Regions from separate parts of the Homo sapiens genome. Here region 1 is linked to region 2. The links come from fine-mapping of genetic effects on gene expression. Tissue or cell type: fibroblasts. Region 2 holds a variant in brackets; the other region holds the start of a gene. All regions are shown on one strand. Distances are between the middles of the regions.

What was found. PIP is the estimated chance that this variant, and not a neighbour inherited with it, causes the effect.
Region 1: it holds the start of HAS1, and the variant in region 2 is fine-mapped to the expression of HAS1 in fibroblasts (GTEx, PIP above 0.99).

What each region holds. Positions count from the first base shown.
Region 1 is chr19:51,719,686-51,727,792 of GRCh38, reverse strand. It overlaps HAS1 (hyaluronan synthase 1), which reads left to right and starts at 3,802. Exons shown (of 5, transcript NM_001297436.2): 1 at 3,802-3,868; 2 at 7,898-8,107. The coding sequence starts at 3,860.
Region 2 is chr19:51,740,761-51,748,867 of GRCh38, reverse strand. FPR1 (formyl peptide receptor 1) reads left to right here. Exons shown (of 2, transcript NM_002029.4): 2 at 1,863-3,095. The coding sequence starts at 1,874. The coding sequence ends at 2,926. Among named protein-coding and RNA genes, the nearest start is that of FPR1, 7.1 kb to the left of the region's middle. The variant G/A (reference allele first, on the strand shown) is at 3,480.

The DNA.
Region 1 (8,107 bases), 21 kb after region 2:
ACAGCATCAATCCGCCCTTACTTTTTTGACTGGCCACACCATTTCTTGCCTTGGATGCCCCTTTCTTGCCCCACCGTCCACCACCACCCTGACCACGGCTAACGCCTCATCAGCCAGCATCACCTCCTCCAGGAAGCCCTCCCTGACTCTTGGGCTGGGTTGGTGCATCCTTGTACTGTTTTGTGGCCCTCTGTTTACACAGCTGTCTTCTCCACCAGATTGGCATCTCCCCAAGGGCAGGGCCCAGGGCTGAGTCATCTCTGTGTGCCCGGCATCGCCCAGCCCAGCCCTGTCCACCAGGGCTCAGGAGATGTCCCCACAATGAATGAATGTTCTCTCCTCTGCCTTTGCTCCATTTTTGCCTTACCTCTCCCACCCTGTGCTCCTTCTGTCCAGGTATTCTGTAAGCTGTACCCTGAGGTTTCCTGATGATGGCTGAAATGCTGGGAAGGCCACTGTGGACCCAGGGCAGGAACTGGAGAGCAGCCACCAGAGGAATGGGGGTTTCTAGGAGCCATGGGTGTTAGCGAGGGGTGCGGTGTCCCTACCTGTCCCTCCAACAACAGCCCCGGCCTGCTGTGGGAGTGTTCAGCTTCACTGCTCCCTGTCTTTCAGCACTTGTCTGGGCTGCTTCCAGCCTTGGTCATCTCTTCCTGCAAGAAATTCTGGGGGCTGGACATGTAGGTCTAAGGGAGAAGGAAGCTGGGAGTTGAGACTCCTGGGTCTGAGGGAGGAGGGGATGGGGGCCTGGGCCTGGGCTCCAGGGTCTGAGGGAGGAGGGGATGGGGGCCTGGACTCCTGGGTCTGAGGGAGGAGGAGATGGAGTCTGGACTCCTGGGTCTGAGGGAGGAGGGGATGGGGCCTGGACTCCTGGGTCTGAGGGAGGAGGGGATGGGGCCTGGACTCCTGGGTCTGAGGGAGGAGGGGATGGGGCCTGGACTCCTGGGTCTGAGGGAGGCGGGGCTGGCAGCCTGGACTCCTGGGTCTGAGGGAGGGGTGCTGGGGACCTGGACTTCTGGGTCTGAGGGAGGTGGGGCTGGGGGCCTGGACTCCTGGGTCTCAGGGAGGAGGGACTGGGGGTCTGGACCCTGGGTCTGAGGGATGAGGAACTCTGAACCTGTACTCCTGGGTCTGAAGGAGGAGGGGCTGGGTGTCTGGGATCCTGGGTCTGAGGGAGGAGGGACATGGGAACCTGGACTCCTGGGCCTGAGAGAGGAAGGGCTGGGGTCTGGACTCTCGGGTCTGAAGGAGGAGGGTGCTGGGAACCTGGACTCCTGGGTCTTAGAGGAGGGAACTGTTGAGGATTAAAGCCCTGGTTATCCTTCCTCAACCGCACTCTGGTTTTAGAAACATCTGGTTTTATACAGCTGCTCCACCCGAGCAGGGCGGGGTGGGGGCTGGGCAGCCAAATGCCCCACTTCTGGGGAGGAGCCTGCGCTGCCCCCTCCCACTGGGCGGAGGACTCACCCTCCCCTTCTGCTCTGGGCTGGCCTCAGATCATCTGAGGACCCATCATCCTGACACAGCCAGACACCAGGCAGCCCGGCTCCCGGCAACAGCGTCAGACACAGCCCGGCCCGCCCTGGTGGGTGGGAAGGGCGTTCGAGCTCCTTGGGAATGCACCTTCTCCCTGACAGGCCCAGGCAGAGGCTTGGCCTGGCGCAGCCTCCTCGGGGAAAACCCCAGGGTGTGAGGACTTGGTGTGAGGACTTGGTGTCTGGCAGGGGAGAGCTCCGGGACAGGCTGGAAGAGATGGAACTGCAGGGAGAGACGAAGATGTAGAAACAGAGAAATGGAGAGAAACTGAATGAGAGAGACAGAGACAGAGAAACACATACAGAGATAGAGCCTTACAAAGAGATAGGTGCGGTGGCTCACGCCTGTAATCCCAACACTTTGGAAGGCCAAGGCAGATGGATCACTTGAGGTCAGGAGTTGGAGACCAGCCTGGCCTACATAGTGAAACCCCATCTCTACTAAAAATACAAAAAATTAGCCAGGTGTGGTGGTGGGCGCTTGTAGTTCCAGCTACTCGGGAGGCTAAGGCAGGAGAATCGCTTGAACCCGGGAGGCGGAGGTTGCAGTGAGCCGAGCTCACGCCACTGCACTCCAGCCTAGGTGAGAGAGTGAGACTCCGTCTCAAAAAAAAAAAAAAAAAAAGAGAGAGATGGGGATGCAGAGAGACGGAAGGAGGATAGAGACAGAGCTAGAGAGGGAGGGAGATAGAGGGAAAAAGAGACAGAGAGAAAGAGACACACACACATGGACACACAGTGAGAAAGTCAGGGAGAGGCACTCAGAAAGAAAGAGAGCCACACAAGAAGAAAGTCAGGGAGACTTCAGAAATGCAAAGGGACAGACACTCCCAGGTAAAAGCAGAGAGAGAATGGCTGTGAGGGGGGATGAGGAGGAGAAACAGACAGGAATACACAGAGGCAGAGACCCAAATAGAGGGACCGAGAAACAGAGATGGGGTGACAGATACAAAATGACAGAGATTTGGGGAGGGACAGACGAGGAGAGAGAAGCACGGGGGAATTTCTCTCTGCTGCTCCATGTCTTTCAGCCTGTCCTGGAGCTGGCCCGTGCCAGACACCAAAGGTCGTTGGAGTCACAGGCAGGGAGAAAAGAACGAGGCAGCTACCGAGGCAGCTACCAAGGCCGAAAGTGAGACATCAATAGTTCACAGTAAGAGGAGCAGAGAGAAGAACAGAATTAGATACAGATAGTTTTTTTAAAAAATTCATGGAAAGAAGGGCATGTAAACAGACATTTATCACAGATCTGGTCCTGAGGGGCTGGGGTTCGGGCACCCCAGGTCCCGCATCTCTTTTCACCCTTCCTCTGACTCAGTTTCCCTGATGGGTGACAGCACTGACAGACCCCGGCTGGCTCCCCAGGGTCAGCTGACCGACAACTCTCTGTGTTCATCCCTGAGTCCCTGGGGATACAAATCCCAGCGCCCCAGCTCTCCACCCCAGACCCTGGTGCACACACGCAGACCCACGTCAGTTAGGCGCTGAATGGACAGATGTTCACTCACAGCTCCGGTTCCAGGCAGCCGTGCCTCGGGCCAGCGTACACACAGGCACACCCACAGCACGCACGTGTGTGAGTTTCGTTCCATCTGCCAGTTGCTGAGACATGTCCCTGGGGGGCCCAACCCAGAGATGGATTCTGGGGACAGGAGAGGCGGCTGTGGGGAGAAGCAGGGCGGGGGTGACTGGGGAAGGTGAGAAGGGGGAGGTGGGGAGAGCTTTAAAGCAAGAAGAGAAAGAAATGAGGGTGAGAGGAGGCAAGAGAAGTGGAGAGGAAGAAAGGGATGGAGAGAAAGACAGAAACTTGGAGAAATGTGGTAATGGGGAGAGAGATGAGGGTACCAACAAAGAGATGAGGAGAAATAGTGGGTTAGGGAGAAAGAAAGGGATGGAGGGAAATACAGGGATAGGGGATGGGGGGATGAGGGGAACCCCCAAAATGCAAGTGAGGTGGAAGAGAAAAATCAGGGGAGACAAGGGACGAGAGGGGGGAGGAAGAGAGAAGAAGACATAGAGGAGGGAGGGAGAGGAGGGGGAGTGATGGCAGAGAGGACTAGAGGAGGGGCGCGGGTAGACATGGGGGCCTGGGAAGGGAGGCCCGTCTGGCTGAGGGGGGTGGGAGTAATAGCGGGAAGCGGGTGGAGCTGCCCGGCTGGGCCGTGACCTCAGAGCCCCTGGCCCAGCTTAGCCTGACTGACGTCAGCGCTCGCTCCCGCCCCCGCCTGCGCTGGTCTTCAAATGACCCCCCTCCAGCTCTCTGGCCACAGAGAGGCTGGGAGAGCAAGCCGGAGAGAAGAGAGAGCCCGGCCAGACCCACTGCGATGAGACAGGTGTGTGTGTGTGTGTGTGTGTGTGTGTGTGTGTGTGTGTATACAGCCATGTGGGGAAAACTACTGCCATATGTGTGACCACGTGTGTTGGGGAACTGTGTGTGCATGATTTCATGTGTGTATCCATGTGCCTGACAGTGACCATATGTGTGTAGGGGACAGTGAGCATGTGAGGCTGAGTGTGCAGGTCTGTGTATACATTGCCCTGTGTGAGCGGCCATCCCAAGTACATGTAGGTGAGACGTGCCATGTCCGTATTTCTGTATCTGCGTATCTTGCTACAAACTTGTGTATGTCTATGTTCCCTGGGAGGCAGAGAGAAAGAGGGAGTGCGACAGTGAGCGAATGAAAGAGACTGAGTGAGAAAGAGAGTTGGATTTGCCTGTGGCACATGGGAATGGATTTCTGTTTCATGCGTTCAATAGCTATTAAGTTGAACCAAATGAAATCGCCGATACTGAGCCACTCTAAACTTGGAAGAATAGCAATTTCATCTGGTTCAGTATCAGCTTGACAGTCACCTACTATTTCTCTTGAAATCTTCCCTGTGCATCCCATTGCCCCAGACTCTCAGTTGGGGCTCTGTGTGTTTGTGGCCACGTGGACATCCTTTGCTGGTGTTGCTTTTTCCTGCTGAGGGGTGTGTGTCTGCAGGTTCACCTGTGTGGCCGTCGGTGGGGGTCACGGGATCGCTGTGTTTGGCCTGAGTGGGTGTCTCGGGTCATCCTGTAGAACACGAGTAATTTCATTCTGTGTGTCACTCATCATGTGTGAGTTCACGTGTGGGGGAGTGTGTCTACACGTGTGTTCATCTGTGTTTCTGGAATCAACTCTCTGGATCCCCAGCATGAATTGAGCCATCCCTAGGAACTCAGGCAAGGCCAGGTTTGAAGCAAAGGAAGAGAGAAGGGGGATTCGAGAAGAAAGAATAATGTTTAATGTTGAGAGTTTAAAAGCTGTACCTCAGTTTTGTCCTCTAGAAATGTAACGAAAACCACAATATCTAATTTAAAATTTTCTTGTGGCCACATTTGAAAAAGTAAAAACAAACAGGTGAAATTAATTTTAATAATATATTTTTATTTAACCCAGTGTGTCAGGGGCCAGCACATTTTTTTAAATAAAGGGCCCAATATTAAATATTTGAGGCTTTTGGGGGCCATCTGGTCTCTTTTGAAAGTACTCAACTTCGATGTGGTAAATGTAGAATCAGCCACAGATGATGTATAAACAAATGAATGTGGTTGTATGCAAATAAAACTTCCTTTAAGGACACTGAAATTTGAATTTCATATTTTTCATGCTCCACAAACTATTATTCTTCTTTTGGCTTTCAAAAACCATCTAAAAACACACACACAAATTCTTAGCCTGCAGGCTGCAGCAGGTCTTAGCATGCCGACCCCTGCTACATATAAGATATGATCATTTCAATATGTAATCAATACATAAATGTTAATGAGCTATTTTACTTTCTTTTCCCCAGACTTGGCCTTCAAAATCCAGTGTGTTCATAGCACTTCTCACTTAGATGCTACCTTTTCACTGGAAATACCTAATCTGTGTTTAGATTTTATAAGATTTACAATTATAAAAGGGGCATCGTAGATGCAACTTGTTCCAGACATATTTAAAATCTTTCCAATAACCGAATCAAGTAAGAGTTTTTAAATTTAAATGAATTAAAATTAAATAAAATTTAAAACTCAGTTCCTCGGTGATACTGGCTGCATTTCAAGTACTCGGTAGACACATGTGGCTGCTGACACCTGTGTTGGACACAAAGATCTACATCTTAACGACGCATTTAAATAACCCACAGTAAGCCTTGAGGCAGGAACTGGTGGCATAGGAGGCAGTTTAGCGTAGAGGGGACGCCAGAGCCAGACTGCCTGAGTTTTACTTCTGACTCTGCTTATTACCTGAGTGACCTTGGGTAAAAGTATTTGCCTCTCAGTGTCTCAGTTTCCTCATCTGTAACAGAAGACAGTGAAGGTACCTGCCTTATAAGATTGTTGTAGAGACCGGGTGCAGTAGCTCACGCCTATAATCCCAGCACTTTAGGGGGCCAAGGCAGGAGGATCGCTAGAGCCTGGGAGTTCGAGACCAACTTGAGAAACACAGCAAGACCCTGTCTCTATTATTATTATTATTATTTCGAGATGGAGTCTCGCACTGTCACCCAGGCTGAAGTGTAGTGGTGCCATCTTGGCTCACTGCAACCTCCACCTCAGGGGTTCAAGCAGTTCTCCTGCCTTAGCCTTCTGAGGAGCTGAGACTACAGTCGTGCGCCACCAAGCCTGGCTAATTTTTGTATTTTGCTTTCGCCATGTTAGCCAGGCTAATCTCGAACTCCTGACCTCAGGTGATCCACCCGCCTCCGCCTCCCAAAGTGCTGGGATTACAGGCGTGAGCCACAGTTTCTGGCTCCCTGTCTCAATTTAAAAAAAAATTTATATATATATATTAAGGTTGTTGTACAGTAGTGTCTGGCACACAGAAAGTACTTTTTCCTCTGATTCTGGGCTCTTCCAGCAACATTTACTGGGGCACCTGGCTCTGCTGGGGAGTTGGGCAGTGGAAAAGGAGAACCAGGCTATGCCTCTGGAAAGTCAGAGAGAAGAGTCCTCTACCATGGGCTGCTGATCTTGTGCAAGCCACTCCTTCTGGCCAATCAGTCCTCAGTTTGGCCACCTGTATGGTGGCAGAGCACTATCTGTCCCCCAGGGCTCTCCCGAGGGCTAGAGGTTTAGAGATTCAGTTCCTAGGGTTCAAATCCAGGTTCCTCTGCTTTCCAGGGACAACCTTGGGCAAATTGCTGAACCTCTGTGTGACTCAGTTGCCTCATCTGTACAACGGGGATAATAATAACAGTACCTACCTTACAGCGCTGTTGTAAAGATTAAAATAAATTCATTCATCTTAAAGGCTTAGAGCAGGGACTGGTACACAGCATTTTGGTTTTTTAGTATGTGTTATTATTATTACTGTCTCAACCCTAAGAAACCTTTGATTGGGAGATAAATCCTCATTGTATGTGCCACTAAGAAAGAGGAGGGAAACGCCCTAGTAATTAAATTGTGACACTCCATCGCATGCAATCATCCTCACGGATTTAAGAGATTTCAAAACGTGGAAAAAAGTTGTATTGGAAGAAACAAAATCAGGCTGGGCTTGGTGGCTCATGCCTGTATTCATAGCACTTTGGGAGACTGGAGCCTAGGAGACATAGTGAGACCCCTCCTCTAATTGTTTTTTTTTTAATTAGCAAGGCATAGTGACTCCAGCCTTGTGGTCCTAGCTTCTTGGGAGACTGAGGTGAGAGAATCGCCAGAGCCTAGGAGTTAGAAGCTGCAGTGAGCTATGATGGTGCCACTGCACCCCAGCCTGGGCGACAGAGCAAGACCCTGTCTATAAAAATAAATAATAATGAAAAGAAGGAATCTAATCAGCATGAAGCCTAGATAGCTATTTGCTCCAATTATTTTCGTTAATGAAAATAATTTTGGGGCCCGGCGAGGTAGCTCATGCCTGTAATCCCAGCACTTAGGAAGGCCGGGGCAGGCAAGTCACTTGAGCCCAGGGGTTCCAGACCAGCCTAGGTAATGTAGGGAGACCCCCGGCTCTACCAAAAATTTAAAAATTAGCCAGGAGTTGTGGCACACTCTTTGTAGTCCCAGCTACTCGGGAGGCTGAGGTGGGAGGCTGAGCCTGAGCTCGGGAAGCTGAGGCTGCAGTGAGCCTAGATGGCGACACTAGGCTGGAGTGAGACCCTGTCTCAAAAGAAAAAAAAAACAAAAAACGAAAGGAGAGAGAAAGGGAGAGCGAGAGCGAGAGAGAGAGAGAGACAGCGAGACAGACACAGAGAGAGAGAAAGATAAAGAGAAGGAAGGACGGAGGGAGGGAGAGAGAGAGGGAGGGGAGGGAAAGGGAAGGAGGGAAGGAAGGAAAGGATTTTTAATCTTCTCTCGGAGGAGGCTCATGCGCCCGGGACTCATGCCCCTTCCTTTCCCCTCTCGCTCCCAGCAGGACGCGCCCAAGCCCACTCCTGCAGCCTGCCGCTGCTCCGGCCTGGCCCGGAGGGTGCTGACCATCGCCTTCGCCCTGCTCATCCTGGGCCTCATGACCTGGGCCTACGCCGCCGGGGTGCCGCTGGCCTCCGATCGCTACGGCCTCCTGGCCTTCGGCCTCTACGGGGCCTTCCTTTCAGCGCACCTGGTGGCGCAGAGCCTCTTCGCG
Region 2 (8,107 bases):
TGTGACACTAGGTCACTGAAGCTGTCGCCCACTGATTTTCTGATATCTTATGCTCTTATTTTTCCTTTATTAAATTGATGGTAAAATACAAAAAGTTAACCATTTTAGGCTGGGCACAGTGGCTCACGCCTATAATCTCAGCACTTTGGGACGCCGAGGCGGGCAGATCACCTGAGGTCAAGGAGTTTGAGACCAGGCTGGCCAACATGGTGAAACCCCATCTCTACAAAAATATAAAAATTAGCTGGGCATGGTGGCAAGTGCCTGTAATTCCAGCTACTCAGGAGGCTGAGGCAGGAGAATCACTTAAACGCGGGAGGCGGAGGTTGCAGTGAGCCAAGATCGCACCACTGCACTCCAGCCTGGGTGACAGAACGAGACTGCGTCTCAAACAACAATAAAAAAGTTACCCATTTAAATGTACAATTCAATGGCATTAAGTACATCTACAGTGTGTTGCAACCATAACCATTATCTAGTTCCAGAACTTTTTAATCACACCAAGCAAAAACTGCATATTCATTAAGCAACAATTCCCCACTTCCTAGTTTCCCCAGTCCCTGGCAATCACTAATCTGCATTCGGTCTCTGTGAGTTTGGCTACTCTGGATATTTCATACAAGTGGAATCATACAAAATGTGACTTGTGGTGTCTTCCTTCCTTCTCTCCTTCCTTCCTCCTTCTTTCCTTCCTTTCTTTTTTCTTTCATTTTAGAGACAGGGTCTTGCTTTGTTGCCCAGGCTGGAGTGCAGTGGCTCAATCATAGTACACTATTAACCTTGAATTCCTGGGCTCAAGTGAGCCTCCCATCTCACCCTTCTGAGTAGCTAGGACTACAGGTGTGTGCCACCACATCCAGCTAATTTAATTTAATTTTGTTGTTGTTGTTGTTAGAGATGAGGATCTTGCTATGTGGCTCAGGCTGATCATGAACTCCTGAGCTCAAGCAACCCTCCTACCTCGGCTTCCCAAAGCTCTGAGATGACAGGCGTGAACCACCACATCCAGCCCTCTTTTGTTTAGAGTAATGTTTTCAAGGTTCAGCCACGTTGTAGCATATATCAGTGCTTCATTGTTTTTTATGGCAGAATAATATTCCATTGGGTGGATAAACCACATTTTGTTTATCCATTCATCTGTTGATGGACATCTGGGTTGTTTCTACCTTTTGGCTATAGGGAGGAGTGTCTCTATGAACATTTTTGTTTGAATACATGTTTTCTCTATACATCTTTGGCCCCATATTCTCCTCTTGGAGGTCAAGGACCCTATCTTCCTTAGCCATTTAATCTCCCTGGTAGGGGCTTGCATGTTAGCAATTATGAGGATGTGTCATAAGATGCAATCTTGGCCACACGTGGTAGCTCACGTCTGTAATCCCAGCACTTTGGGAGGCTGAGGTGGGTGGATCACCTGGGGTCAGCAGTTCAAGACCAGCCTGGCCAACATGGCAAAACCCCACCTCTACTAAATATACGAAAATTAGCCAGGAGTGGGGTGGTGCATACCTGTAGTCTCAGCTACTCAGGACGCTGAGGCAGGGGAATTGCTTGAACCCGGGAGGTGGAGGTTGCAGTGAGAGATCACGCCACTGCACTCCAGCCTGGGTGACAGAGCAATATTCCATCTCAAAAAAAAAAAAAAAGATGTAATCTTGCCCAACAGGTACAATAAAAGATTGCCAATGTATAGATGTGGGCATGTGTAAGGGACAGTGGTGAGGATGTTCCGGCTGTTGTGGGAGCTCTAGGGGAAGGTGAGAAAGCTAGGAGTGGGAAAACTGGCAGGGGCAGAAATGAGGGGGTGGGGAAATGGTACGGAGGTTCATAACTGAGGAATGACCACGACTGCACTATTTCAGGAGCAGACAAGATGGAGACAAATTCCTCTCTCCCCACGAACATCTCTGGAGGGACACCTGCTGTATCTGCTGGCTATCTCTTCCTGGATATCATCACTTATCTGGTATTTGCAGTCACCTTTGTCCTCGGGGTCCTGGGCAACGGGCTTGTGATCTGGGTGGCTGGATTCCGGATGACACACACAGTCACCACCATCAGTTACCTGAACCTGGCCGTGGCTGACTTCTGTTTCACCTCCACTTTGCCATTCTTCATGGTCAGGAAGGCCATGGGAGGACATTGGCCTTTCGGCTGGTTCCTGTGCAAATTCGTCTTTACCATAGTGGACATCAACTTGTTCGGAAGTGTCTTCCTGATCGCCCTCATTGCTCTGGACCGCTGTGTTTGCGTCCTGCATCCAGTCTGGACCCAGAACCACCGCACCGTGAGCCTGGCCAAGAAGGTGATCATTGGGCCCTGGGTGATGGCTCTGCTCCTCACATTGCCAGTTATCATTCGTGTGACTACAGTACCTGGTAAAACGGGGACAGTAGCCTGCACTTTTAACTTTTCGCCCTGGACCAACGACCCTAAAGAGAGGATAAATGTGGCCGTTGCCATGTTGACGGTGAGAGGCATCATCCGGTTCATCATTGGCTTCAGCGCACCCATGTCCATCGTTGCTGTCAGTTATGGGCTTATTGCCACCAAGATCCACAAGCAAGGCTTGATTAAGTCCAGTCGTCCCTTACGGGTCCTCTCCTTTGTCGCAGCAGCCTTTTTTCTCTGCTGGTCCCCATATCAGGTGGTGGCCCTTATAGCCACAGTCAGAATCCGTGAGTTATTGCAAGGCATGTACAAAGAAATTGGTATTGCAGTGGATGTGACAAGTGCCCTGGCCTTCTTCAACAGCTGCCTCAACCCCATGCTCTATGTCTTCATGGGCCAGGACTTCCGGGAGAGGCTGATCCACGCCCTTCCCGCCAGTCTGGAGAGGGCCCTGACCGAGGACTCAACCCAAACCAGTGACACAGCTACCAATTCTACTTTACCTTCTGCAGAGGTGGAGTTACAGGCAAAGTGAGGAGGGAGCTGGGGGACACTTTCGAGCTCCCAGCTCCAGCTTCGTCTCACCTTGAGTTAGGCTGAGCCACAGGCATTTCCTGCTTATTTTAGGATTACCCACTCATCAGAAAAAAAAAAAAAAGCCTTTGTGTCCCCTGATTTGGGGAGAATAAACAGATATGAGTTTATTATTGACTTCTTTTTTGATTTTGGACCTCAGCCTTGGGTGGTCAGGGTGGGAAATGATAGGAAGAAGCTGTCATCTGCATCCTAGTTTGCCTGAAATGAACCCAAATAATACCCATTATTATTAGTCCTGAATTATGAGTAGTGAATGATACCCATCATTCTGGCATCATGATGAGTAGTGTCCACTTCCATTCTGAAAAGTGCCCTGCTGTGAAAAATAAATTATATAGTCATCCTAGGTAAATGAAGGAGGAGGGAGAAGTGTGAAAGAGTATGGCTTAAATCAGACAAGATATACAAGAAGATACTTTATATAGGGCAGGAGCGGTGGCTCATGCCTGTAATCCCAGCACTTTGGGAGGCCGAGGCAGGCGGATCACCAG[G/A]GGTCAGGAATTCGAGAACAGCCTGGCCAACATGGTGAAACCCTGTCTCTACTAAAAATACAAAAATTAGCTGGGCGTAGTGGCAGGCTCCCGTAATCCCAGCTACTCAGGAGACCGAGGCAGGAGAATCGCTTGAACCTGGAAGGCGGAGGTTGTAGTGAGCCAAGAAAACGCCACTACACTCCAGCCTGGGTGACAGAGAGAGACTCCGGCTCAGAAAAAAAAAAAAAGAAGATACTTTATATAAAGTCCTCAGCCTTTATCGGTCAACAACTCAGTAAAAATATAAAGTTATCGAGATGTCAGCTGAAGACCCCTCATTTCCTTGAGATCTACCTGATGCCTAATCTTTTATATAATAAATTTTGGGAAACAGATTATCCTCTCCACAAGGGAGGGCCCCCAGGGCCCGTGTTTTTACCTGTGGCTCTAAGTCTTGCTTCAACTGAGTTAGTCCAGTTCACACAATGTCTGGTGGTTGCTGCCCTGATGAAATTAACCCAGAGAGGAACTCAGACATTTCCTTCAATTTACTGAAAAGCTACCTGCACAAGGTATTTAAATATGAAACACACTTTACAGAAAGAAGCTTGGAAATGTTAGAGTATGCAACTGGCCAGCAACGGACAAACATGAAAGCTTCCAGTTGAACTTAAGACATCCTTTTAAAAGTCCACCCTCCCTCTTATCTCCTCACCTCCAGATTCCTGCTTTTTTTTTTTTTTTTTTTTTTTTTTTTACAACGCAGAGAAATTTAGCCATCCTACCCTTGACTCTGACTCTTTATCCCTCAGGTCTCCTTTCCTAACTCAAGTCATTTATCAATAACAGTATCCTCCTTAAGAAGATTTCTGGTGCCAGCTCTTTTTTTTTTTTTTTTTTTTGAGACAGAGTCTTACTCTGTCGCCCAGTCTGGAGTGCAGTGGTGCGATCTCAGCTCACTGCAACCTCTGCCTCCCGGGTTCAAGCGATTCTCCTGCCTCAGCCTCCAGGTTAGCTGGGACTACAGGCGCCCGCCACTGCGCCCGGCTAAATTTTTTTGTATTTTTAGTAGAGGTGGGGTTTTGCCATATTGGCCAGGCTGGTTTTGAACTCCTGATCTTGTGATCCACCCGCCTCAGCCTTCCAAAGTGCTGGGATTACAGGTGTGAGCCACCACACCCCATCAAGAAGATTTCTGTTGTCGGCTCTTGAATAATCATTTAATTACCATTACAGACATCATCATTTTATTGTATTTTATTTTATTTATTTATTTATTTTTGAGACAGAGTTTCACTCTTGTTGCCCAGGCTAGAGTGCAATGGCACAATCTCGGCTCACTGCAACCTCCACTTACTGGGTTCAAGCGATTCTCCTGCCTCAGCCTCCAGAGTAGCTGGGATTACAGGCATGCATCACACCTGGCTCACTTTGTATTTTTTAGTAGAGATGGAGTTTCTCCATGTTGGTCAGGCTGGTCTCGAACTCCTTACCTCAGGAGATCTGCCCGCCTCAGCCTCCCAGAGTGCTGGGATTACAGGAGTGAGCCACTGCGCCTGGCCATCATTTTATTATAAACAAGAAACAGAAGAGAAATGGAGAGAGAATGAATAGAAAGAAGAGAGATGAAGGAGAAGCTTGGAGCATCCAGAATTAACTTACAGCAGAACCTGTCTTTGGGTGAGGGGCTGGGTGATGAGGGCTAATTTCATCTCAGTGCAAGGGGAGATTCCTGAGTTTTGATGACATGATGTGGTCCTTGGGAATCTAGCTCTTCTCTAGACTCCCATGATGATTTTTTCTGTACACCCCCCACGAAGCTCTGCAAGCCTTACTCATCAGCATCCAATGCATTTATTTAACCTATGCCACTGACCCCAGAGCTTCTGGAGGGCATCGTGTCATCCTTGCCTTTTCCCTGCATACAAAAGGCTTCAATGAATGATGGTTTAACTAAACCTTTTGCTTCTGTACCTCTTTTATAATTACGCAGGATACTTGTAAATCCTGGAACCCCTTTGGTCACCAACTCCATTAAGTCAGAGAGTTCTTCCTATGCTGACACATGGAGAAATTGAGGCCCAGAAGGAGAGTGTAGTAAAATAGGACCCTGCTACAAAGTTAGAGGGCAGACCCTTCATACAAGACCACCCTCGCTTCTGCCAATTTGCAGAATCTCCAGAACACCCTCCGGCTGGATCATTTGCTAGAAAGAGTCACAGAGAGAGAACTGAGCAGAGGATTTGAACAGAGAAGAAGTGAGAGATGATGAAGCCCCAGATTGCAAGGGGTAGGGAGAAGCTACCAGATAATGTTCCAGTTCCTCTAAGGTCTAGACGCACTGTCTGCAGTTGGCTTCCTTTAAATTCCCTTGTGTTCTTCCAGCAGGTTTAACTTAAGCCAGCTTGACCGAGTTTCTGCAACTCACAACTCAACCATCCGTTCCTAAGCTACCTATAATAATTGTCAGAATGAATCAACCACAGGGTGGTTCCCGTGACTGAGGCTGAGCAAGAGAATGGGGAGAGACTTGGCTTGCGGGGGGTGGGTATTACCCTTCCGGCCACTTACTGGGGGAGCTCCTGGTCTTGCATGAACCAGCAAACAGAGAAGAGGCAATGGCCTATGATGTGGTCAAAGAACGAGAATAAATGATAGCCCCTGTCGGCTCCCAAATCCTAACAATATCCAGCTCACCCTGAATGGTGCCTCTATGGGGAAAAAATCCCTCTTGTAGAATTTAGACGTTAAGAATACAGACCCTCCTAACAAGTTGACTGGATTGGAATCTGGACCTCATCTCTTATAAGCTCTGTGATCTGGGGAAAATCAATTACTTTTTCTCTCTCTTTTTTTTTTTTTTTTTTTTTTTTTGAGATAGAGTTTCACTCTTGTTGCCCAGGCTGGAGTGCAATGGCATAATCTTGGCTCACTGTAACCTCCACCTCCCAGGTTCAAATGATTCTCCTGCCTCAGCCTCCCGAGTAGCTGGGATTACAGGTGCGCATCAACACGCCCGGCTAATTTTTGTATTTTTAATAGAGACAGGGTTTCTCCATGTTGATCAGGCTGGTCTCGAACTCCTGACCTCTGGTGATCTGCCTGCCTTGGCCTCCCAAAGTGCTGGGATTATAGGCGTGAGCCACTGTGCCTGGCCTCAATTACTTTTTCTGTATCAGTAATGGTCCCCTCAAGAAAAAGGCAGTACACTAAAATGATTTCGTTGAAGAGAGCTGGAGACCCAGGAATGCTGGTGGTGCAGTCCCAGTCCTAGTCTGAAGGGCTGAGAAGGAGAGACAATGATGTAGTTCCAGTCCAAAGGCTGGCAGGCTTGAGACCCAGAAAGAGCTAATGTTTTTATTTTATGTCCAAAAGCAAGAAAAAAACTCATGTCTCAGCTTAAAGGTTGACAGGAAAGGAGTTCCTTTTATTCGTAGAAGGGCCAGCCTTTTTGTTTTATTCAGGCCTTCAAAAGATTGGACGTGGCCCGCCCACAATAGAGAGGGTAAGCTGTGTTACTAAGTCTACCTTTTAAATGTTAATCTTGGGTCTGGCGTGGTGGCTCACACCTGTAACCCCAGCACTTTGGGAGGCTGAGGTGAGCAGATAACCTGAGGTCAGGAGTTCGAGAATAGCCTGGCGAACATGGCAAAACTCTGTCTCTACTGGAAATACAAAAAGTAGCCGGGTGTGGTGGTAGGCACCTGTAGTCCCAGCTACTTGGGAGGCTGAGGCAGGAGAATCACTTGAACCAGGGAGGTGGAGGTTGCAGTGAGCTGAGATTGGGCGACACAGAGACTTTGTCTCAAAAATAATAATAATAATAAAATTAAATAAATAAATAAATGTTAATCTTATTAAGTTTAGCCCAAAGCTGTATTCTCACTTTTTTTTTTTTTTTTTTGAGACAAGGTCTTGCTCTGTCACCTAGGCTGGAGTGCAGTGGTATGATCATAGCTCACTGCAGCTTCAAACTCCCACCTCAGCCTCCCAGGTAGTTAGGACTACAGGTGCATGCCACCATGCCCAACTAATTTATTTATTTATTTATTTATTTATTTATTTGCAGAGATGGGATCTCACGATGTTGCCCAGCCTGGGTGACAGAGTGAGACCCTGCCTCAAAACAAACAAACAAAAACAAAAAACAAAAAACAAAATTATTGCAATGGTTTGGATACAGAAGAAAAGAGAGTTCATCTGTCCTTTATTAAACCAGACATTTAAAAAATCTGCAAACAGGCTGGGCATGGTGGCTCATGCTTGTAATCCCAGCACTTTGGGAGGCTGAGGCAGGTAGGTTACCTGAGGTCAGGAGTTTAAGACCAGCCCGGCCAACATGGTGAAACCCCATCTCTACTAAAAATACAAAAATTAGCTGGGCGTGGTGACGCATGCCTGTAATCCCAGCTACTCAGGAGGCTGAGGCAGGAGAATCACTTAAACTTGGGAGGCAGAGGTTGCAGTGAGCCAAGATTGCACCATTGCATTCCAGCCTGGGTGACAGAGCGAGACTACAGCTCAAAAAAATAAAAACAAAAAATAAAATAAAAACTAGTACTGGATTTTGCAAGAAATAGCAAGTCACCCTGAAGTTATAATTGTATGGCATTTACAATAAAGAGAATTTTAGATTATATTATTAT